Linked DNA regions of Homo sapiens. The protein of the gene in region 4 purifies or fractionates together with the protein of the main gene of each other region. This does not show direct contact. Each region holds a gene or a part of one and is shown on either strand. Other genes may lie near its edges.

What was found.
Region 1: the proteins of SLC39A10 (region 4) and DDX18 purify together in Homo sapiens (affinity purification with mass spectrometry; one large-scale study listed by BioGRID and IntAct). This does not show direct contact.
Region 2: the proteins of SLC39A10 (region 4) and QSOX2 purify together in Homo sapiens (affinity purification with mass spectrometry; one large-scale study listed by BioGRID and IntAct). This does not show direct contact.
Region 3: the proteins of SLC39A10 (region 4) and DSC3 purify together in Homo sapiens (affinity purification with mass spectrometry; one large-scale study listed by BioGRID and IntAct). This does not show direct contact.
Region 5: the proteins of SLC39A10 (region 4) and ZNF787 purify together in Homo sapiens (affinity purification with mass spectrometry; one large-scale study listed by BioGRID and IntAct). This does not show direct contact.
Region 6: the proteins of SLC39A10 (region 4) and DIPK2A purify together in Homo sapiens (affinity purification with mass spectrometry; one large-scale study listed by BioGRID and IntAct). This does not show direct contact.
Region 7: the proteins of SLC39A10 (region 4) and MPZL1 purify together in Homo sapiens (affinity purification with mass spectrometry; one large-scale study listed by BioGRID and IntAct). This does not show direct contact.

What each region holds. Positions count from the first base shown.
Region 1 is NC_000002.12:117,824,691-117,828,190, reverse strand, and holds part of DDX18 (ATP-dependent RNA helicase DDX18), read right to left. Parts: coding exon 3,483-3,500; intron 3,252-3,482; coding exon 3,090-3,251; intron 2,745-3,089; coding exon 2,592-2,744; intron 1,923-2,591; coding exon 1,809-1,922; intron 1-1,808. UniProt on the Homo sapiens protein: ATP-dependent RNA helicase that plays a role in the regulation of R-loop homeostasis in both endogenous R-loop-prone regions and at sites of DNA damage.
Region 2 is NC_000009.12:136,239,313-136,242,812, forward strand, and holds part of QSOX2 (sulfhydryl oxidase 2 precursor), read right to left. Parts: intron 1-3,500. UniProt on the Homo sapiens protein: Catalyzes the oxidation of sulfhydryl groups in peptide and protein thiols to disulfides with the reduction of oxygen to hydrogen peroxide. May contribute to disulfide bond formation in a variety of secreted proteins.
Region 3 is NC_000018.10:30,994,243-30,997,742, reverse strand, and holds part of DSC3 (desmocollin-3 isoform Dsc3a preproprotein), read left to right. Parts: intron 1-694; coding exon 695-952; intron 953-3,246; coding exon of another isoform or gene 3,247-3,273; exon of another isoform or gene 3,274-3,289; intron 3,290-3,370; coding exon 3,371-3,500. UniProt on the Homo sapiens protein: A component of desmosome cell-cell junctions which are required for positive regulation of cellular adhesion. Required for cell-cell adhesion in the epidermis, as a result required for the maintenance of the dermal cohesion and the dermal barrier function.
Region 4 is NC_000002.12:195,716,226-195,719,725, reverse strand, and holds part of SLC39A10 (zinc transporter ZIP10 precursor), read right to left. Parts: intron 3,090-3,500; coding exon 2,721-3,089; intron 1,475-2,720; coding exon 1,394-1,474; intron 1-1,393. UniProt on the Homo sapiens protein: Zinc-influx transporter. When associated with SLC39A6, the heterodimer formed by SLC39A10 and SLC39A6 mediates cellular zinc uptake to trigger cells to undergo epithelial-to-mesenchymal transition (EMT).
Region 5 is NC_000019.10:56,111,296-56,114,795, forward strand, and holds part of ZNF787 (zinc finger protein 787), read right to left. Parts: exon of another isoform or gene 3,268-3,500; intron 3,110-3,267; exon of another isoform or gene 2,525-3,109; intron 1,151-2,524; exon of another isoform or gene 1,071-1,150; intron 1-1,070. UniProt on the Homo sapiens protein: May be involved in transcriptional regulation.
Region 6 is NC_000003.12:143,978,323-143,981,822, reverse strand, and holds part of DIPK2A (divergent protein kinase domain 2A isoform a precursor), read right to left. Parts: intron 1-3,500. UniProt on the Homo sapiens protein: May play a role in cardiomyocyte proliferation through paracrine signaling and activation of the PPI3K-AKT-CDK7 signaling cascade.
Region 7 is NC_000001.11:167,724,982-167,728,481, reverse strand, and holds part of MPZL1 (myelin protein zero-like protein 1 isoform a precursor), read right to left. Parts: intron 1-3,500. UniProt on the Homo sapiens protein: Cell surface receptor, which is involved in signal transduction processes. Recruits PTPN11/SHP-2 to the cell membrane and is a putative substrate of PTPN11/SHP-2.

The DNA.
Region 1 (3,500 bases), about 78 Mb from region 4:
TTACAAGAAAAAATCAAACAACCCAATCAAAAAGTGGGCGAAAGATATGAACACACACTTCTCAAAAGAAGACATTTAGGCAGCCAACAGACATGAAAATATGCTCATCATCACTGGCCATCAGAGAAATCCAAATAAAAATCACAGTGAGATACCATCTCACACCAGTTAAAATGGCGATCATTAAAAAGTCAGGAAACAACAGGTGCTGGAGGAGATGTGGAGAAACAGGAACACTTTTACACTGTTGGTGGGACTGTAAACTAGTTCATCCATTGTGGAAGACAGTGTGACGATTCCTCAAGGATCTAGACCTAGAAATACCATTTGACCCGGCCATCCCATTACTGGGTATATACCCAAAGGATTATAAATCATGCTGCTATAAAGACACATGCACATGTATGTTTATTCACAATAACAAAGACTTGGAACCAACCCAAATGCCCATCAATGACAGACTGGATTAAGAAAATGTGGCACATACACACCATGGAATACTATGCAGCCATAAAAAAGGATGAGTTCATGTCCTTTGTAGGGACATGGATGACACGGGAAACCATCATTCTGAGCAAACTATTGCAAGGACAGAAAACCAAACACCGCATGTTCTCACTCACAGGTGGGAAATGAACAATGAGAACACTTGGACACAGGGTGGTGAATATCACACACCGGGGCCTGTCGTGGGGTGGGGGGAGGGGGAAGGGATAGCATTAGGATATATACCTAACGTATATGACGAGTTTATGGGTGCAGCACACCAACATGGCACATGAATACATATGTAACAAACCTGCACATGGTGCACATGTACCCTAGAACTTAAAGTGTAATAATAATAAAAAAAGAAAGAAAGAAAGAAATGTCAACCTGATGAGCACCTGTGCTGTGGGAACAAGGAGGCAGGAGATCAGCGATGGCTTCCCAGCAAAGACAGAGGCGAGCTGAAACCAAGCATTCTGGACAAAGTGTGCAAAAGCTGTAGAGCAATTTCAGGGAACTGCCTGCAGTTACAGGGTAGAGGAAGCCTATCATCAAGACTATGCCAGAAAGGCCAATGAGGATGTAAATGTCAGGCAGGAGAAGGCCTGATATGCATCCCCCACATGGCCTAGCAATGAAGAGGCCACTTAGGGTCCTGATGGATTCAATTCTGGTGTGATAGTAGAAAGCTAAAGCCAAATTAGGCTGGTTAGGGACTGAGAGGGAGGTAAATGGCAAGAATATAAGCCATTTTTCCAGTAAGGCTGACTGAGGAAAGGCAACAGACAGTAGCTCCTGCAGGCAGGGGTAGAAGAACAGGTTTAAGGTTGAAGTTACTTTTTTACAGTGAGAAATTTGAGATGGTAAAGCGCCAACCGCAAGGAAGAGACTGTAGGCCAAGAGTTGATGAATAGGAGACAGAGGGCAGGGGAGGAGGCAGAGGCTAGAGCGAACAAGGATTCCCCACTGCTTCACATGAGGTAAGAGGAAAGAAGGGGAGCAGAAGCAGAGATGACTAGGTGTGAGGGAGCTTCAAAGGAGTGGAGAAGGTTTCAAAGAGGGCTGGAGGGAACAGGAAAGGAGAGGCTGGGACACAGAGGTGTTGCTGGGTAACAGAGCTAGAAAGCCGAGCCATGTGGGCAGTTCCTTCTGTGCTCACTTCTTGGGCTAGAAGTACATAAAACCTTACTTGCTTAATTGCCATAAGAATGGTTGTAACAGCACTGGCCAGACTCGAGACTCCTCTGACACATGTAGAAATGTTGCTTGCTAACAATCCCTACACCAAGAGAAATCTTTCTCCAAGTACAGATCTTTACCTTGGATTGTTTCAAGTAGCGAAGAAAACCCAATTCTTCTGGGCGCAAAATGAGCAAGGCATGCCCTCTCCCATTTAGGCCTCTGGCTGTTCTACCCACACGATGAATATATTCCTTTGGTGGAGAAAGAAAATCTGAGTTAACGCAGTGACTTCCACATGAGCCCATTTGCGTATCTGCATCCTGAGTATGTGCATGTCTGTACTGAGATGGTGTAGTCCCACGGTGCTGGGCCACACACACCTTCACCACACCCCCACAAAGCTGGGCCAGCAATCGCTCTGTGCACATCACCCCCAATAGGCCAATGATTGAGGCCCAAAAAAAAAAAAAAAAAAAAAAAAAAAAGGCTGGACATGATGTTTGCATTAACAGCGATCTAATAAAATGAGTATTATGTGTGCTTCATCATCAAAACGGCTTTAATCCAGTGTTTGTTGAAAATACTTCTCAATGAAGCTTATTCTACCACATATACTACAGAAGTTTATCTACTTCCTTAAGCAATTTTATTTCCTTCAGGCATCTGCTGTTCTTAAGAGATCATTCCAAGGATCTCATTTTCATAACTTAAGTCCCACTGATCCTTTTCAATCCTCTGGCACAGCCCGTTTGAGCCCTGAAAAGCCTTAAGTACTTTTCAATACCAGAGAAATACTGCAGTCACTGTATAGTAGGGATCTTTACCTTGAATGTGGAATGCAGTTTCCGTCAGGGAACTGGGAGAATAAGTGAACTTTTAATGCAGAGTCATTCTGAAGATATTCCAAAGATGCCAGTTACCTTAGGGTCATCCGGAGGGTCATACTGAACAATCCAGTCGACTTCAGGAATGTCTAGTCCTCTCGCTGCCACATCCGTACACAATAGTGTTCCCGAATCTGCATTGCAGAACTGGAAGAATGTGGTTGTACGCTTATTTTGCTTTTGCTTTCCCTAGAATTAAATAAAAACATCCATTAGAGCTGGAATCTTGAGGAAGACTAGCAGTAGAACCCCCAAATTGTGGAACTGTTACCCTATTTCGAGCTCATCCCTTGGCCTATGTCCTATTTCCCCAACTGTTCCGCAAGCCCCTCAAGGAGGATGGTGTCTTGCACTCTTCGAAAGTCCTCATACCCCTCCACACCCAGCAGCGCTCCCCCACACAGGATCCATCATCTAGTGGTGATCAAACTACTCAGAACAATGTTTCCAGGAGAGGGCAATACCTCCAATCCTACAATCTATAGGATTTAATAAGCATACCCTGTTTTCAATGAGCTCATCATCATCACTTACATGAATGGCCAAGACGGGCAAATCAATGTAGTTCAGCAACTCATAGTGGTATTTCACAGACATACAAGATGAAAAGAAGACCATAAGCTTCTTCTTTCGGTTCTTCTTAAGGAATGTAAAGAGCAGAAGGAATCTCTTTTCAGAAGGACAAACAACATATCCCTAGAAAGCGTTTAAGCAGACAGATACAAATGAACCAAGTGGACATTTTCCATTTCCTAACTTGTGTAATTTCATCAAGAGCACTGATAAACACAGTGTGTAAACTGTCATGCCTCACCTACAGCATTTTAAAAGTTCATTAACCCATTTGCTTTCTGAATGATCCTTCCAACAATTACATAAAAACACCAAGTAAGATCCCTACAGTTTTCAGTTATTGATAAAAAGTACCTGTTCAAGACCATCCAC
Region 2 (3,500 bases), on a different chromosome or scaffold from region 4:
GCTGGGGCCACAGGAGTGGGGATCTTGCTATGTTGCCCAGGCTGGTCTTGAACTCCTGGGCTCAAGTGATCCTCCCACCTTCCAAAGTACCGGGATTACAGGCGGGAGCCACTGCCCCGGCCACTTCCTTGTTTTATTTGTCTTCCTGTTGACTGTCTGCTACTCCCTCTAAAGCACAGGCTTCCTCAGGTGGGGACCTCCCTGCTTTGTTCCCTGCTGTTCCTCCAACAGATGAATTTCCAGCGCAAATTCATCCCGGAGCGTGAATTCACGCAGAGCCCCTGCACACACTGCAGGGCGAGGGAAGTCCAGCTCCATCCACCAGTCCGCAGGGGCAGCACCTCGACCTGCCTCAGTAGAGCTACGCTCCCAACACCACCACCCCACTCAGGGTCAGTCCTGGTGAAGGGGCATGCGGGCACCCCACGTCGCCTTTGTCTGTCCTTGAAAGAATGCCAGGCCGTGTGCTCAGGGAAGGCCGAGCAGATGAGGGAGAATTTCAGTTACACAGGCCTCCCTCAGCAGCTGAACAGGCGCCAGGAGTACCGGCAAGGACTCGGCAGATGGACGGTATTCATGGCAACACAAAAGATATGGTAGTCCATATTATCAAATCAAATACAAAACACGTAAAAGGCTTAGCTTCAGGGCACTGGCCTCATTCAACGGGTACCCTCCCCTTCTCCTGCTCTGCCCACCTGTCTAGCTCTGAACCTCTAAAGCAGAATGCAAATGGCCTGCTTTCATTGGGCCTCTGGGGTTAGAGCCAGCTGAGAGGCACAGGGTGTGGCAGGGGCGGGGGTGCCCAACCCAGCACAGCCAGGGGGTTCCAAAGGGAGGCAGAAATGAGACCGCAGGCCTATTCTCACTTCTGCTCAAGAGCCTGGCTATTTTAGGACTCCAGTCTTAAAAATACTTGGGAAATAATTAAGCTTCTATATATAGTAGATTAACATTTATTTCAAATGTGCTTGTCAAATAACTCTAATACTGAATCTAACAAGGTTAACTCTTTACTGCTTGTCACGTTCTAATGAAAAAGTCTACAGAAGTCTAATGTATAGTCCAGTATCAAATCGTTCTAGAAAATGATTACAGTAAAGATAAAACAATCTCCCAAGTTGAAAGGCAACTAGGGAGCTGTGTTTAAGGGACAGAGGTCCACTGCAGCCTCTCCTTCCTGAGTCAGGGCCATGCTGGGGTCTCGAACTCCGCATACCAGTCCCTGGAGAAGACCCTCTCTGGGTGGAGCCCCCTCTTGGCTGAGCAAAGGTCTTCTTAGCTAAGCTCCAAGTTCAAGGCACAAGTTTGGAATAACAGGCCTGGGTAGAAATGAAACCCACCTAGCGACCAGGAGAGCCTAACACAAATCACCTAGAAGTTGCCAAGGGCTGGTCTGAGAAAACCCGGGCACACGCTACGGTCGCCTCATCTGGGGACTGAGGGCAGGGCTGGGTCCCATGGACTCTTGATCCCCAGCATTTAACTCAATTCTGGTAAACCAAAACTACACGTTCTTCAGCCTCGAAGGGTGCTCCGAGGTGACAGCAATTCCAATGCTGTTTATCTGTTGGTAGGGAATGACAGTCCCTCAGCCCGTCCTCTGTCAGGGAAGCCCAAGCAGTGCTTATGACCTGGGTCACCCCATGGCACGACGACCGGCATGACACAGCGGAGACGGCTCCCTGGACGTGGCTGTAAGGCCCTCTTAGCAAACCATCCCGTCTTACTTCAACAACAAGTAAGTGGCCTGGGTCTCTCGGTGTAGTCTCAGACGCACCAACCACAGCCACTGGGGAGGCCAGCGGGGAGCCCGGCTGCTCCGATGCACCATCCTTTCTGTAAAATACTCATGTGGTCGCCACAGCGGGGCTACATTAAGCCATTTCTGGGCCCGTAAGGAGACAGGAGGCCTCCACTGCCCAACTCTTCCTCCTTCCACCCTCTCCATCCTCCCGAGTCCAGTGAGCACCTGGCAGCTCTCACGGGCCGTCAGCCCCGCCAAATGCCCGCTGACACCTGCATGTCCCCCTCCCTCTGGCCCTTATTGTTTCTTTTTCCAGTAAACGGACAATGAGCCTGTGGGGAACACCAAGTTCTAATTCATCTCCAAGAAGCCTGCAGCCTAGTCGAGTAGACAAGAAACCAGACCAAGTGGGACAGAGGAGCTGGCAGCAATCACAGAATGCCCTACCCTTCCTTCAAGAGATGTCGGATGTGTCCAGCTCCCAACCCCCACCTGTCCTCTACAAAGACACAGGAATGAACTGCCATGGCTCCAGGTCACCCACACCTGGACACCCATCCCGGCCTGTCACTCAGCTGCGTGACCGTGACTATCCCACGCAACCTCACGTGCTATCACCTGCAACATGAGCGCCCCCGCACTCCTGAGGACAGGTGTGGGAGGACTCGGCCTGTTCCACGCAACCTCATGTGCTATCATCTACAACATAAGCGTTCCCGCCCTCCTGAGGGCAGGTCTAGGAGGACTCAGCCTGTTGTGGGTGGTGGCCTGCCCTGTTTTCTCAGGCTGACCAAGTGAAGGAGATGGGAGGGAACAGGCACCAGGGCCACAGAGGGCGCACGGGGACACAGGCCCTGCCTTTAGGGTGCACCCTCTTGTCCACTCAAGACTGCAGAGGCATTTCGGAGATCTCACCGGTCAGACGGGCCAAAGTGTAGCCCCAGGCCCTGGTGCCTCATCTTCCATCACAAACCCAGCAACCATCACTGCCAGGCAGATCTTCAGGAACCCAACAAGGTTTTGTTCTGCAAAGTACTTAGAAGTGACAGGCTTAAGCCAAATCTCCACAAACACTAGAATGACACTTGGTCACACCAAACAGTACAACTTTTGTTTCTTAAGCCACCTTCTTATAAGAAAAAACATTTATTTTCCCAGCCTTGAAAAAGCCAGTCAAGAGCTAAAGTTCAATCCAAATTTCTGAGGAAAACAAAGGTGCCCTGGCCTGTCCTGCTCCTTCCAGCTGGAGGCTCCTGGGAAGCAGAGCCCACACCTAACCATCCTCTCCAGCAGCCACAGGCATGAAGAACGCAGGGCGTGGCGGGCGCTGGCCAGGGGGACCAGTGGGAGAAGGCGGCTGGACACTCTAGGTAGAAGTGGGGGCCCAAGCCATGGCCTGTGTGCCCCCAGGGGATCAGCAGGATGACCTAAGTCACAGGTGATTGATCAGGGCCACAGGTGACTGATCTGAGTCAGGTCAACAGGGACATAAGAAAACATGAGAATGTTGACAACGGGAATGCCTGCATGCAGCCAGACCCCTGCACTGCCACGGGCAATGGGCGCCCTATCCCTGTGGGACAGCTCCACGCAGGGATGACAGACAGGGAGCCAGGCGCCAAGCAGACAGTTCTGAGCTGGCAGGTCTGGGCTGGGGCTGTGGAGAAGCAGGCATTTCTAACAAGGCCCTAAGTGGCCCTACTTTGAGAGTCCCAGCCTTAGAACAGCTCCGGGGACTCCTCAGTGCCAAGGG
Region 3 (3,500 bases), on a different chromosome or scaffold from region 4:
TTGTAACATTTTGTGCTCACCCACATAGTAGAGTAATCACATTCTCAAAGTATTTGTTTTTCTCTCTCCCTGGAATAAGATCTTCTTGGAGCCATCGAGAGACTATGTCTATCTTTATATCCCTAGGCTTTTGCATTTGCTATGGTGAAATTTGTCCCTAAAAGCTGATATGTTGGAAACTTAATCCCCAATGCAACAGTGTTGAGAGGTGAGACCTTTAGTAGGTGATTAGGTCATGAGGGCTCTGCTCTCATGAATGGATTACTGTCCTTATCATGAGAATGGGTTTATTATCATGAAAGCTTATTGTAAAAGCAAGTTCAGCCCCCTGTTGCTCCTCTCTCCCTCTCTCCCTCTCCCTCTCACTCGTGCTCTTTTGCCCTTCCACCTTCTGCCATGGGATGGGCCCTCGCCAAATGTGAACTCCTTGATCTTGGACTTCCCAGACTTCATAACTGTAAGAAATAAATCTCTGTTCTTTAAAAATTAACCAGTCTCAGGTATTCTGTTATAGCAGCACAAAATGAATGAAGACAGTATCTGGGCACATAATTAGAAACTGATAAATGTCTGTTGAATGAATGAATGAATGAATGAATAAAAGGTTGAACAAATATTCTCTCTCCTTTGCCTTCTCATGACAACTTAGAATCCATTTCCTCTCAACATGAATTATTTCATTTTATTATTTCAGTGCTCTGCCAATGGATTTATGACCCAAACTACCAACAACTCTAGCCAAGGTTTTTGTGGTACTATGGGATCAGGAATGAAAAATGGAGGGCAGGAAACCATTGAAATGATGAAAGGAGGAAACCAGACCTTGGAATCCTGCCGGGGGGCTGGGCATCATCATACCCTGGACTCCTGCAGGGGAGGACACACGGAGGTGGACAACTGCAGATACACTTACTCGGAGTGGCACAGTTTTACTCAACCCCGTCTCGGTGAAGTGAGTTTCCTTAGGTGTTTTGAGTCTAAAATTTAAACCTCCGAATGGAGAAAAATAGACAATTCAAATTAACATATATTTTCTGTATTTTTCTGTGGGCTCTCTCTTGCTTGCTCTGTTCATTTTCCCGTGCTCTTTGATTTTGTTACATTATTTAATTTAAAAGAGATTTTATTTCATTTTTCATATTTCATTTAATTTATAAAATCCCATAAATATAGGATGTTTTTAATATTCTTCACTAACGTCTCATTTTTAGTTGTGTATTTACCTCATGAACCCTTTTGATATAGAAGATCGTGAAAGTAATTCTAGTTCCTCACAATTACAAACTTTTCAAATGAAATCTGTATTTCTCTGTGAAAACACCAACATTTGTATGCAGTTTTAGGATAAAGATTAAATAGCATGATTTATATATATTTTTATCTTATTGCAAATTGACAAAATTTAATTGTATATGTTTATGGGGCACAAAGTGATATTATGATTTATGTCTGCAATGTAGAATGATTAAATCACACTTAACATATGCATCACCTCAAATACTTATTTTTTGTGGTGAGAACATTTGAAATGTACTTTCTTTGCAATTTTGAAATATAACATATACTATTATTAACTATAGTCACCATTGCAGGACATATTTTAAATATACAAAGCACCATGCGAATGTAAAGTGCTTTTATTTTAAGGAAAGCAAGAATATGAAAGAAAGAAGGAATTAAAATAAGGAATTCTCTGTTCATACCAAAATCACCTATGAAGCAGAAGCTTTTTTCTTTCTTTTCTTTTTTTTTTTTTTTTTTTTTTTTTTTTAAGGCAGGGTCTTGCTCTGTCGCTGAGGCTGGAGTTCAGTGGTGCAATCTCCACTCACTGCAGCCTTGACCTCCTGGGCTCAGGTGATCCTTCTATGTCAGCCTCCTGAGTAGCTTGGACTACAGGTATACACCACCACACCTGGATAAATTTTGTATTTTTTGTGGAGAAGGTGTTTTGCCATGTTGCCCAGGTTGGTCTCCAATTCCCAGGCTCAAGTGATCCACCCACCTTGGCCTCCCAAAGTGCCGGGATTATACGCATGAGCCACTTGGCTTGGCAAAATCCTCTATGAAGCTTTTAAAACATAACTAATGGCTGTGTTCTACTCTAAAAGATTCTAATTTAATGAATTTGGGGTTTTTTGTTTGTTTTGTTTTTGTTTTACATTTCCGAGATGATTCAAATGTGCAGCTAGGTAGAAAGCCACTGGATTAGACACTCTTCTGGACTAAATTTTTACCTCTTTTATCAGAGGATACCAGTGCCATTGCAGGACAAACAGTAGACCTTTAATCCTTGAATGGAATGCAAATGGGTGATACTCTGGTATAGGGCTGTAGGTTATGTATCCATAGCATTTTGGAGGGTCAAATTCAAGTGTTAATTCTTTTTCTACTTCTAGACAGTCAGTATTTATGTAATATCAGGTTGAGATGGAGTGAAGCTTAAGACATAGTCTTAGGAGGGTTCCTCAGTTGCACACCAGGTAATGGGAGGTAAGGCTAACAATGTCATGAAGAAAGAACGTAAGCCATGCCAATGAACTCCACATAGGCAAGGAGTGGGCACACAGGTGAGGAAAGGGAGGAGACATGGCAGTTGACGAGTTGGCAGACAGGCCAGTGGCAGAGAGGGTAGATGTGGCTGAATGCATGGCGTCTTCATTATAAAAGCCCAGTTTTTGCAATATGGGTCATGTTCATTCTTTTTAATTTCATTGAACTTTTCGATGCATGTATATATTTTGCCATGTTTGAGTATCTTGGAAACTTGCTTCTGAAGTTAATGTGGTAAATCCTACCTAGTTTATAACTGCATATAATAGTGATTCAAGTTAACATGTATTGTACCTTTAATATGTGCTGGGCATAATAAGTGTATTATGCGTCATTATTTTGTCATTAATTTCTAAAATAATCTTGTTAGGTGGTCACTGAGACTAAAGGATATTTGGTCACTTGCCCAAAGTCATATAGCTAGTTGGTAAAGCCAGAGCTTTGACTCACAACCAAGGCTGTTTGACATCCTATCTCAAACTCCTAACCAGTATGACTATTGTCTCTATTTTTTAGACTAGACTGACCTCTGTGTATAAAATTTAGGGATAAGCATTTAATGACAACTTGAATGTACTTAAATATAAAACTTGTATACATAATTTTTTATTTATATGGAGCACTAGAAATGTAAACTATACTGACTTTATGGTATGGTTGTGATATAGACCAATCATTTGCATTTTCTGTGTGTAGGAATCCATTAGAGGACACACTGGTTAAAAATTAAACATAAAAGGTAAATAAAAATAAATTTTATGTTCATATATTTAAGTTGTTTAAAACTATAATGCAATTCATTTTTTAAAAAATTTTACAGAAATTGCATCGATGTAATCAGAATGAAGACCGCATGCCATCCCAAGATTATGTCCTCACTTATAACTATGAGGGAAGAGGATCTCCAGCTGGTTCTGTGGGCTGCTGCAGTGAAAAGCAGGAAGAAGATG
Region 4 (3,500 bases):
GAATCGCTTGAACCCAGGGGACAGAGGCTGAAGTGAGTCAAGATCATGCCACTGCACTCCAGCCTGGGCAGCAGAGGAAGACTCTGTCTCAAAGAAAAAAAAAAAAAAAGAAAGTTAATGCCAAGTGCTGGGAGGGTTGTGGCAACAAGAACTTTCAGATATTGCTGTTTGGAAATCATACTGCTTTAGCATGCATACCCTAGACCTGTCAATTCTGTTTCTGAGTGTATATCTCAGAGAAGTCGACAGGTATCAAGTCTAGAAATGTTCAATGCACTATCTCTGATGGGAAGAAATTAAAGGCCACGTGCTGTGTCCAATAACAGGTGCTACATATGTAAAATGTGGCGAAAGCACATTTCTGAGTACTGGGCAGAAACAACAGATTAAATTAACTCATCGTAATCGGGATGGAGAGTTTTAAAACACAGTAATAAGTAACATAAGGTAAGAAACACAAGGGTTGTATCAGGAAAGCGAATCAAAGCGAGGAGGAAGTAACCCATTTCCCTTTTAGAAAAAAAAAGTGCAGCTCATTTCTAGCGCTCATTTCTAAGGGCAAATGGGAAATGCATTCGAAAAAAAAAAAGAATGAAGTCCAACATAATATATATGATTACTATAGTTGAAAGTGTATCAATAAACAAGAAAACATTTTTTTAAATGAAAAAAGAAAAATATAGGTTTTTAAAGATTATTTTTTGAGTATTCAGTTCCATTCGACCAAAATCACATAAGAAACACATACTAGATTTTTGGGTATTAAGATTATAATATTAAAATATATAAAATGAAAACAGAAATCATCCAACCTTCTTACTTCATAAAATAAGAGCTTTGGAAATAAATGATTACTCTAAAACCTCAGTGCTGGTTAGTAACCGAGTTAAGAACCTATCTATCTTTAATAACCATCCAGGTAACATTTTTGAACATCAATATTAACTTTCTATTATTTATGAAGAAAGACTGCCTTAGGTACATCTAGGACAACTTTCAATTATGTAATTACAAACTTTACCCTGATTCTTTTAAAAATATAGTCTACATGGTATATGAAATAAAAGTAGATTAACAGCAAAATGTGGCATTTAAGAAATATTTCTTTTTAAAAGTTATACTTAGTGAACCAGTCATAATCTATAATCTTCATTATAACAGCATAACTATGTTATTGAATGCAAAGGAAACCACACAGAAATGAACATTTCATCAATCTTAAGGAGCATTTTTTTTTTCATATTTTAACATCATGAAGTATCTTACAATTAGTGACACTATAGTTGCCATCAGCCATTTTTTATGCTTGAACATCTCTGAAATTTGAATGCAATTACAATTAAGGAAGTCTTAGATTTGATGAAATCTGGTAAAATTTTTAAGGTTATATTACCTAATTCATGTGGCAGTTCATGACAGAAGACGGCTATAGAAGTACTGATTCCTCCTGTCAATCCAGCACTGAAAGCTGCACCTGAGGAAGATAAGAAAAAAAACAAGTGAGGTTTGCTGATCTTAACTCTTCACATTTTCATTAATGACAGATGCAGTTTCTTTTGCCTATCTAAATTAATTTCTTAACATATGAGTGACTCACTTATCTTACACACTATAGTTTTTGAACATATAGTGGAGTATAATAAGTATGTAACAACTAGAGAAATAGCTATTCAATAAAAGCAATATTCCATATTCAATTTAATTCTCTATTTTTGTAGCCTTCCAACTCACTAATATCTCGGGAATAGTAACAATTTTCAGAACTTCAAAGTAGTGGTTTGATGGTCAACTTTAAGTCTTATAAGTCTAAGATTGTACTTGCTCTCTCACATTGATCTTTATAGGGATTTAAATGGCTAACATCCTTATCAAAACTTTCCTAGACCTGGAAAATAAATGGCACAAAGTATTACTTGTCTGGTAGTATTGAGGACTGAGGTCAGATTTATAAATGCATCTAGGTCTACTAGCAGAATTATTTATTCTTTAGTATTAACAGCTACTATAGGCTGAGCAGGTGGCTCATGCCTGTAATCCTAGCACTTTGGGAGGCTGAGGCAGAAGGGTTGCTTGAGGCCTGGAGTTCAAGACCAGCCTGGGAAGCATATCTAGACTGTCTCTATTTAAAAAAAAAAACAAAAACAGCTACTGTAAATTCAAAAACATGGTCTCCGCTTTCTGAAAGAAACCAAAGCCTACTTCTGGGTGCTAAAAGAGTCTGGATCTCAAAGAAAATTATGTATTGATCACATTTAATGTTCCTTTTAACTGGTAATATCCGTTTACTCTAGCAAGATACTAATATATTTGAATTTAGTACAATGGATTTTCAATGTTGTAAATTTTTTTTTTTGCTTTTTCAAAGATATGGCAAATTTATTAAACCTAGGATTGAAATTAAACTGTTCTCTTTTAGGGATATGTAAATACATTTGAAAATATAATGTTAAGCAGTTTTTTCAATATGGTAACTCTACTTTGAGAAATCAAGTTATTAAAGAAATATACTACAGACATTTGTTTACGTGTTCTAAAAAACCCCACTAAATTATACCCTTACACCTCCAAATGTAACAACTGAACACAAAACTGTAGCCTTTGGGAAAAATCAACTGACCAGAGTGATACATAACCATATATTTGTTAAGCTCCAGCCAAATTTAATCATACATATTATAGTCCATAAGATTAGCATAGACAGTGGTTTCCAGTCCACTTACCAATTGCGAGCCCATCACTGAAGTTGTGGATGCCATCCCCCATGATCACCATCCAGGCTATATTAGCTATTCCTGTTTCTTTCAGATCGGATCCAGAATGACAGGGGCCATGGGAATGATGAGAATGCTTGTGGTGCCACTGGTGATTATGCTTCCTCAGCACAGTTTTGTTCTCGCCGTGGTGGTTATGTGCAGCAGCATGGAGATCATGCTCATGAATGGTATGTAATCCATCACTGTGAGAATGGTCTATGATTTTCTCCTCTTCTATACAAAGGTAATTTTTAGGAGGGGATTCTTGTTGGCCTTCTAAATCTGTCAGTTCAGTTTCATTAAGTCGATCTTCAGAAACAACCGAGTCATCAGTTCCTGTATTTATAGCAAAGGATATGCTTTATCAATAATTAAATGCATGGATATTTGCTAATTTAAACAGAATAGCAGTGCAATGAACATTTCTTAAGTGAATGTCTTTTAGAATTCTTAAATAATTTCCTAAAATTATTTAGAAGCCATTCTAATAGAAAAATGATTTCTGGAGTTAAATTAAAAAATAAGCAAAACAAAACAAAACAAACATACACACACAAAGAAGAAATTGGGTTTGGGGGGAGATTTAAAAGATGCTCCGGATGAGGTCAACGGGAGGGAACTGAAATCAAAAGCAGGCAAAGTGAGGAGAAAAACTGGAAAGCATGAAGATAAAAGTTCGGAAAGAGTTCATCTTTGGATAGAAAGCCTTTTTTAAAAAAAATTACTCCCTCTAGACCCCCTCCTCCC
Region 5 (3,500 bases), on a different chromosome or scaffold from region 4:
CAGCTGGGAGGGAGGCCCAGCCTGGGGCTCCGTGCTCAGCAGCTGCTGCCCTGGAATTCCTGGTCACTTCACCTTTGACCCATATTTTGTAAGTGGGGTCCAAGGGCACAAGGGCTTGGTGCTGGGGGCTCCTAGCCTGGGCTTGGGGGTCTCTGCACCCACCCGTGGGTGAAATGCCAAACACAAAACACCCTGGCCGACCCAGAGACCTCCAGGAAAGGAAGATGCTTTTTTCCTGCCTTTTAGCATAAGGGTCCACAAATTCCATAGCCAGAGGGGCCGGGGGCAGCAGAGGAGGGGTAAGGGGTGAGGGGCCAGAGCTCAGGGTCTGGTCGCTCTTCTAAGAGGGAGGCGGGAAGGAACTCCGCACCGTGGCGACCTGGGACAGGGCCCACACTGCTCTGCATCCCAACTTCCTCTCCGAGAAGAGGGAGGGGCCGACACCTACCAGGGAGATGTGAAACAACCAGCCTGGGTGACAGCACTGTGCCCCTGTGAGCAACGGGCAGCCGCGGTACCAGTCCTTGGCGTCATCACCGGCTCTGCCACCCGCGGAAATGGCTGAGCCTCAGCTGCCTCCTCTGCAAAGCAGGGACGGGAAGGGCAGGTGCCTTGCTGAGCTGTGTGGGGACTGAGTGGAGGCTTCTGAGGACTCACCAGGGTTAAGACGGGTGTTCATTCAATGCTCCCCAGTTCTCTTCTTCTCCCGTCCCTCCAGGCATGCTCTCAGCCCCTGCTGAAGCCTGTGTCCTAATCCATCAGGCCCTACCCCCAGGACCTCATGGCGGGGGCATGGGACCCTCACCCGCAGAGGTGAACGATGGGAGAGGCGGGGGCACCAGGAGCTGCGGGGGCCTGAGGCAGCTCCTGACCCAGCTCTCAGGGTCCAGGCCAGCTCCCTAGGAGAAGGCCCCCCACTTGCTCTCAAGAAAACCCTGGGCTATTCAAGGAATCTACCAGAAAGCTGGGAATTGCACATCTTCTGAAACGAGGGTCCCGGCCTCCCTTACCAGCCTCCGTTTCTCAGTCGGGGTCTCAGGCTCTCCCAGCCTCTGCAGGTGCTTACTCACCTGGCTCTGACCTCCGCTGCAGAGAGGAAGCACCTGGAGCACGGGCAGGGGTGCGTTCCCCTCGCCCCAGCCCTTGAGAGATCCAATTAGCACAAATGATTGTTATTATTGTTGTTATTAAGTCCCGCCCACCCCTCTGGAGGCCTGCCTGCCAATTATCCCCTTTCTTCTGCTGCCAATCTCACCTCCTCCTCCCCCCGCACTCTCGGAAGCAACTCCTCCTGGCCCTCCGTGGCCCTCCCTGCCCAGAAACTTCTCTGGCACCCACCTGCTTTCTTCCTCCCCCCAGTCTCTTATTCCTTCCCCTCTACTTGCAGCCTGGAGCAGCCACCTCCCTTCCTTCCCCCCAAGTCATCCTCCAACCACTGGGCTAACACCCTCTCTGACTTTTCACCAAATCCTGTGGCTCCTTCTCAGCCTGACTCCACAACCTCTTTGGAGCCACCATGCACCCCATGTGGCCCTGCCTTTGTGGGGCGGGGGAGGAGCTCTGGGGTGCCCAGACCAGCCGTTCCCCCCACCCCACCCCCTCCAGCACGGAGGGCTCTGGCCCTTTCCTCCCTCCCACCCTCACTCTCTTCTCCCCATTCCCCTTCCCTTGGGGCTTTCGCTCCCTCCCACCACGATCCTGGCTCCCACCCTGCCTCTTGGAAGTGCCCTCCTCACACCACACACCAACTCATCTTCCTGAAGTCACTCAGTTCAAACAACCCAATTAGAACCCGGGCAAAGGATCCGAGAAAGCATTCCTCCAAAGAAAGACAAATATCTGATAGGCACATGCAAGGATGTCCTCATGAGCCGTCTGGGAGAGGCAGACCAAACCCACAGGGAGGCAGCACCTCACACCCACTGCCAGCCTCAGAAAACAAGTGCTGGTGAGGACCAGGAGAAGTGGGGAGACCCCCATTGCTGGTGCGGGCGCCATAGGAAACACCTGGCAGTTAGTTCCTCAAAAGGTTAAGCCCAGAACTCCCATAAGAACCCGCAATTCCACTCCTTAGTATAGACCCGAGAGAAAACATGCGTCCGTCCACGCAAAAATCTGCACACGAATGTTCACAGAAGCATCAGGCATAACAGCCGAAATGTAGAGACAACCCAAATGTCCATATGGATGAACTAACTGTGGTCCATCCATGACCGTAATGGAACACGACCATAACCAGGTGTGAAGTTCAGCTGTGACAGGGATGACCCTCGAACACGGCACGCTTGGTAAAACAAGCCCGATGCAGAACAGCACGATTCTATTTATGCGCCTGCCCACAAGAGGCACACCCCGGGAAAGAAAGCAGATCAGCACTTCCCAGGAACCGGGACGCAGGGAGGCAGGGAGGCAGGGAGGGAGGGACTGCTGAAGATGCACGGCGTTTCTTTTGGGATGAAGAACAGGTTCTAAAATCGACTGTGGTGATGGCTGCGTAAATCAGTGAATACACTAAAAACCTTACTGAACTGTATATTATTTATTTATTTATTGAAACAGAGTCTCGCTTTCTCGCCCAGGCTGGAGGGCAATCGCACCATCTCGGCTCACTGCAACCTTCGCCTCCCGGGTTCAAGGGATTCTCCTGCCTCTGCCTCCCGAGTAGCTGGGACTACAAGCGCTGAACTGTGTACTTTAAAAGGGCAAATTGTACACTATGGGAATCATATCATAATAAAACTGTTCTCAACAAAAAGCAACTCAGTTCATCACCTCCTTGCCCAAACTGCTGCCACTGCACGTGCCGGCTGCCCCTCAATCCAAAATCCAAGTTCCTCCCCAGGCACCACAGGGTTCCATCTGGCTCCGGCACCTCTGCAAACCCCCTCCCTTCCAGCTGGCCCGGATCTCGCTGTGCAGTGCACTGCTCCTGATGCACCGACAGGCTCAGTCCTGGCCAGGCCCGGTCTTTCACCCTTAAGGACCGGCCCCACTCCTCCACTTGCCCCGGCCAGGCCTGGTCTTTCTCTCTGAGGGGCCGGGCTCAGTCCTCCACTTGCCCCGGCCAGGCCTGGTCTCTCTCTCTGAGGGGCCGGGCTCAGTCCTCCACCTGCCCTGGCCAGGCCTGGTCTCTCTGAGGGGCCGGGCTCAGTCCTCCACTTGCCCCGGCCAGGCCTGGTCTTTCTCTCTGAGGGGCCGGGCTCATTCCTCCACCTGCCCCGGCCAGGCCTGGTCTCTCTCTCTGAGGGGCCGGGCTCAGTCCTCCACCTGCCTGGCTCAGTCTCACCTTTCAAGGGTCTACTCAAATGTCAGCTTCTCCCTGAGGCCCACACCCCACCTTTCCCATGGCAGGGCTGACTTCCTGGCTGGTCAGCACCTTCTGTCACCATGTCACGAGCGTGGTGATATCACTTCTATTGGTATTTCCTTCCTGGGACTCTGCATCTGCTCCTGGGCACAATGCTCCCTGAGGGCAGGTGCCAGGGGTGTCCAGCACCTGC
Region 6 (3,500 bases), on a different chromosome or scaffold from region 4:
TAATTATCTTTACAACAGTCAAAATGAATTCAAAAGATAGATTAACACAACCTCCCTCAAGCCAATATCCTTTTGTTGAAGTTAAACTTTATTAGTTTGGGGTGGTTTTTTTGGGTTTATTTTTTGTTTTGTTTTTGTTTCTGTTTTTGTTTTTGCTTATTTATCATCTGTTTAAGAATTTTTCAGATTTTATAAAGGTAACGGTTTATATATTACATAAGAGCATTCCAGAAGCCAACATTATGCTGGAAAAATAATGTTAAGATTGATTATTTAACCTAAGTGATCTCCACCCAGGCTGAGACCTAAAGGATGAGTTTAATATTAAGCAGACTGGAGATGGGGCAGTTCAGGCACATGAAAAGCCTGAAAGTATCTTCTCAGAAATGAATAAAAGACCAAAGCAGCTGCAGTGAAATGAATGGGGAAATGACTTGCGGTAAGGGAATCTGGAGAGTGAAGCAAGGACCAGATCATGTTGGGACTTATAGAATCAAACAGAAATCTTCAACTCAGTCTTTATAGCATCATCTATATGTATGCCATGCAAAAACAAATACATGTCAAAATCTTGATGTTCAGGATTATCTTACATACTGAAATCAAACAGTATGCTATGGTATATTTACCTTATTCTAAAAAACAAGCCTTTAAAATATCACGATAACCCTTTGATCAATATCCACCATCCTGCCAGGTTAATAAGGCCATTTCATTCTATCATGCCATAACACAGTCATGAAAAGGGTGGACATGGAATATATGAGTAAAGATACATAAAAGAATACATTTTGGTATTGTTTATTTACTTACAAAAAATAAATGACATGAGACTAATAGATTAAAATAGAGTCTACTTAAAAGTGCTTGTATTCTTTTTTCTCCTACATGACCAAAAATATTGTATACTAAATTTAAAAGATCAAAATTCCTTTTATACAATATAAAATATTTTATAATACTTCATTACCTCATAATATTCCATTAAAAGGAACATAGCTTTGCAGTTTGCCTTAAGAGAGAAAATAAGTACAGACCAAGAGATGTGTTACCATGCAAGACTGATTTTTGTTAAACTTGAAAGTTCTTAGTATAAACAAACTAACTTCAAAAAAACTATTAATAAAACATACAATCTAAAATGTGAATATCGATTTTCTACATAACTGGCATTTCTACAAAAAAAAAAAAAGTTTAAGCTTGAAAACACTCTTAGAAAGTATATGTCATCAAAAGCATAGAAAATGCTTAAAGGGGCCAGGCGCGGTGGCTTCACACCTATAATCCCAGCACTTTGGGAGGCCTAAGTGGGCAGATCACCTAAGGTCAGGAGTTTGAGACCAGCCTGGCCAACATGGTGAAACTCGTCTCTACTAAAAACACAAAAATTAGCCAGGCGTGGTGGTGAGCACCTGTAATCCCAGCTACTCGGGAGGCTGAGGCAGGAGAATTGCTTGAACCCGGGAGGCAGAGGTTACAGTGAACTGAGATCACGCCACTGCACTCCGGCCTGGATGACAGAGACTCCATCAAAATAAAGACAGACAGACACATAAGAAAGAAAAGAAAGAAAGAGCTAACTTAAGTTTTAAAATTATTTTTTAAAGCCCAAATTTGAATGAAATCCCATTGTAGTAACGCATGTTATAACAGCTGTTCATAAAGATTAGTCAACTGTACTGGTGACAGACTAATGTGTTCACAGTTTGGTGAACTGTCTGGAGGGGAGATATAGTAAAATTACGGGGATGATTTAATGGTTACTGAATTTTTGCTAAAATTTCTCTAAGATCTTAGCTTCTTAATTTATACTGCTAAATAGCAGCCAAAATCCATTGCAAATACTGTAGAAGCTTAACAATTTCAAGATTTTTAAGTCCTAGCATATGTCCCATTTATTTCATGAAATAATTTTCTGAATGCCATTTTCCACCCACCTCAAATTCCAACAATATTAAACAATGCCTTGAAAATAGTAAGGTTGTGTTATTTTACTGAATATCATGTCCAACAGCTGTATCTAAAATTGGAAACTGATGTCAAAACACATTTTAAAAACTAAATTTAATAGAAATAGATTATCTTTTAGAATAAATTGCTTAAGAAATGCTGCCCCCACCAAAAAAAAACACAAAACAAAAAACACTTCACTTGTTCACAAGTTTTAAATATGCATAAGTTTACTAGTCTCAACTGACCCTTACTGTGTCCCAGGGGTATATACAGATCAGTTCCTGGCACTATTGACCAATTCCACATAATTACTGTCAGATCTTTTCATTTCAGAGTTAACCCCCAAAAAAGCATTAGAAAGAAAAAATACGAAGACACTGAAGCATCATACTTACTTCAGATTACAAATCTTTTAAGATTCTGTCTCAGAGTCTAAGGTCTAGACTTAACCTGTTTTTTTGTACTACCATTTACCAATGTACTAAATAGAATTACTAAACTATAATAATGATTTACAGAGAAAAAAAGAAACTATTTGCCTTTTACTTCTTAATCCTTATCTAAACCGTCTTTCCTACCATATTCATTCTATTCATTACACTTCATATGAGACAAATCCCTAATCCCCTTTTAAACTACTATTTTTAAAAAACTATAGCCTGAATAGGTACATATGATTTACGTATATGTAAGGACAGTGACATTTGAATGTCTGCAATAAGAAAAGTAGGATTTTTACATTTCTAAGACAGACATCAGCATAATGTACTAAAGAACTTTTAACTACTATAGCTGTCTAAAAATGGAATAAGCTGATTTTCAAAGAAATAATACACTGTAAAAAGCTTTACAACTGAAAACATTTAACAGATATTACTTGAATAATCCTTTCTTCTTTAATCTTTAAAACAATCCTGTTAGGTAAGTATTAACAACCCCATTTTACTGATTAAAAAAACTTAGAATCGGAAACATTAAGTGACTTGCTCAATACCATCCAACAACTTTGTGGTAATACAGAATGTGAAATGGATGCTCTATCAATACTGCCCCCTCCACCCTTCCTCCCACTCTCCACCCCCATCTATTGGCAAAATCTCTGAAACTTTCCCTGGTACCATTCCTATCAATATACAATGAGATGTCCCTCCCTGAGTCATGTGACAGTATATATATATATATATATAGATATATATATATCTATATATAGATATATATATATATATATAGATATATATATATATATAGATATAGATATATATATATAGATAGATAGATAGATATAGATACCTTTTGTACAGGGCTTATTAAATGGATTGTATAATAATTAGTTATTTGTGTACCTACCTCCTACATAGTAAGCTACTTGTTTCCTACGGCCATCTTTCCATCCTTTCAATCCAAATGCCTTGTAACAGATTGTAAAATGAACAGACAAATTCAGTTCTTTTGGTTATAAATTCAAAGAGCTCTCAAGAATTTCACAGACAACTTCCTATCACCTTATACTAACCTCACCTTACACTAATAATTTTCAGTCATGTTAC
Region 7 (3,500 bases), on a different chromosome or scaffold from region 4:
AATCCTAGCATTTTGGGAGGCCGAGGCGGGTGGATCACCTGAGGTCAGGAGTTCGAGACCAGCCTGGCCAATATGGTGAAACCCCATCTCTACTAAAAATACAAAAAAAAAAAAAAAAAGAAAGAAAGAAAGAAAAAAAAGAAAAAAAATTTGGGCAGGGCACGGTGGCTCACGCCTGTAATCCCAGCACTTTGGGTGGATCACCTGAGGTCAGGAGTTGGAGACCAGCCTGCCCGACATGGCAAAATTCCATCACTACTAAAAATACAAAAAAATTAGCCAGGCGTGGTGGCAGGCACCTGTAATCCCAGCTACTCGGCAGGCTGAGGCAGAAGAATCGCTTGAACGTGGGAGGAAGAGGCTGCAATGAGCCGAGATGGCGCGACTGCACTCCAGCCTGGGCAACAGGAGTGAAACTCTGCCTCAGAAAAAAAAAAAAAAAAAAAATTAGTTGGGCGTGGTGGCTTATGCCTGTAATCCCAGTTACTTGGGAGGCTGAGGCAGGAGAATCACTGAACCTGGGAGACAGAGGTTGCTGTGAGCCGAGGTTGCACCACTGCATTCCAGCCTGGGCGACAAAACGAGACTCTGTCTCAAAAAAAAAAAAAAGGAAAAGAAAGAAAAAAGATAATGAATAAACAAAGGGGTTTAAAGGCAAAGATATAAAGATCCCAGGAGACAACCACAATTTCTCAATTTATGCACTATGGTGAACGGAGCCAACTGACCTCTGCTTTCTTACGGCAGCAAAAATTCCAAAGACTTTTGTCTGGACTCTAGGGCACTGCTAATGTCAAACGACTTAGCAAAGTAAGAGTGGAAAAGGAAAAAAGGAATATCATTCAAGATACATGAAGGCTTAATATCACCAGCCTTAGGGGTCAAGTCTCAGAGCCATATGACACTTGAGACCTCAGGAGATGCTTCTAGTTCTTCTAATAATTATACCGTCTTCGATGGGGCTAAAGACTAATCTATAATAAATTATATGCCAAAGCTTACCATTTTACTCTCCCTTTTAAAATGACATCTGTGGTCTTAGAGAGCAAGATTAAAAATCTTTCCAAGGTTGAGGTACACATGAGATGTATGTCTTACACAAATAATTCAAATTCTCAGATAAAAGATATAACTCAAAAACAGTCAGGCTCCAGTTAGAAGGCTCTAATCATCCAGTAGAGACATGACTGTGGCTGTACTATATTAGCTCCAGTGTGGATGCAAAGTGGATGGTGAGAAATATTTAGTAGGTAGACCAGCATCTACTGGATAGAGGGGAAACAGCAATATTTCTGAAAAGCTATGTTTTTCCCAATTAAATCATGTTTTTAAAACTCAGTGGGAAAGACCAATCTTTAAAGAAACCCTATAACATATCCCTTATAAGTTTTAAAAATATTTTATAATACAAATAAGATGTTCCATTTTTCAAAAATTTGCTGCAAATTTTCATATTAGATCAATCATATTTTCTTAAAAGTTGTGATTGTTGGGAATTTAATCTGTCCTTTGGTATTATTTATTTGAGTAGATGTTTCCTGTCTGTCACTTCTCACTAGCATCTAGGCTCCCTGCTGCATCCCATACATAAACAGTGCCTTGTGCCCAGTAGGTGTTCATTTACGTTGAATAAGTAAATAAATTAGACTTAATGAAAACACAAACTTGCATTTTATGTTCTTTTGCACATAGCTGTCTTTCACTTAACATTTATCTTTTTCTTTTGGCAGCATCTAAGCCTAGTGGATATCCTGGAGTTGGAGTAAAAAATATACATATTTTATAAGACTAAGTTTCTATTTTACTATCCTGACTAGTAAATAAGTAAAAGGCCAAGGGAACTGATAATGAGAAATAAGCAGTGCATGAAATCACACTTTGGAAAAATATTCTTCTTGCATAAACACATATTGAGGACCTACTATACCATGCTAAATCATAACTACATATTGCAAACTCCTAACAAACTGTTGTCAAGACATGCCTATGCCTCACTGCCATTTAACAAATATTTTTAGCATCTACCATATCCACTGTGTTAAGCACTAGGAATACTTCTATAAACAAGACAGATGATTTGTCTGTCCCAGATTCTGATGGAGGAAAAAAAAGAGAAGAAAAACCATATAGAAATTACAATAAGGAAGTAAACGGCAAACCAGCAAATAGTAACAGGTAAGTACCCTAGAATAAGGTGGTCAGAGAGGCCTCTCTAAAGATGTGAAACTTAGAGCCTCTGTGATGGAAAGGAGCCAGCCCTGGGCAACATCAGAACAGCTAGTTCAAAGGCTAGGAGGTGGGAATGAGTGTCACAGAGCAGAAAGATGGCAGTGTGGCTTGAATATAGTGAGAAAGGGGTGGTGGGTGGTACAAGTTGAGGTCATAGAGGTAAGCAGAAACCAGATCACAAAGAGCTTTTCAGGCCATGGGAAGTTTAGATTTCATTCCAAGTGCAATGGGAAGCCATTAAGGATTTTAAAAAAGAAGGCAACATGATCTGATTTGCATTTTAACAAAATCATTCTTGCAGTTTTGTGAAGAATGGATTAAAACGAACCAAGATGAGTACTGGGCGTGGTGGCTCATGCCTGTAATCCCAGCACTTTGGGAGGCTGAGGCAGGCCGGTCACTTGAGGTCAGGAGTTCCAGACCTGGCAAACATGGTGAAACCCTGTCTCTACTAAAAATAAAAAAATCAGCCAGATGTGGTGGCTCACGCCTGTAATCCCAGCACTTTGGGAGGCCAAGGCGGGTGGATCACCAGGTCAGGAGTTCGAGACCAGCCTGGCCAACATAGTGAAACCCAGTTTCTACTAAAAAATACAAAAATTAGCTGGGCATGGTGGCATGCGCCTGTAGTCCCAGCTACTCGGGAGGCTAAGGCAGGAGAATCGCTTGAACCAGGGAGGTGGAGGTTGTGGTGAGCCGAGATCACGCTACTGCACTCCAGCCTGGGCAACAGTGCGAGACTCCATCCCCCAAAAAATAAATAAATAAAATAAATTTAAAAATAAATAGAAAAATCAAAAATTAGCCAGGCATGGTGGTGCATGCCTGTAGTCCCAGCTACTTGGGATGCTGAGGCACAAGAAGAATCACTTGAATCTGGGAGATGGAGGTTGCAGTAAGCCGAGATTGTGCCACTGCATTCCAGCCTGGGCGAGACAGAGCAAGACTCCAGAGGGGGAAAAAGAGGAAGAGCAGCTGGGAGGCTATCACAGTAATATAGGCAAGAAATGGTGGTGACTTTGACTAAAAGGCTAGGAGTGGAGGTAGAAAAAACATCAATTCCAGATGCATTTTAAAGATGGGAGAACTGATTGGATGTGAAGGACAGGGAAGAATCAGGGATGGACCCTAGGTTTCTGGCCTGCACAATTAGATGTATGGAGGTTCCATTTACTGACATGGATGGTACAAATTACTGAGATTTAGTCCTCATATACTATGTGCTCATTTCAATTACCAAATTCAGTGAATTCTTATCACATTTTATCTCT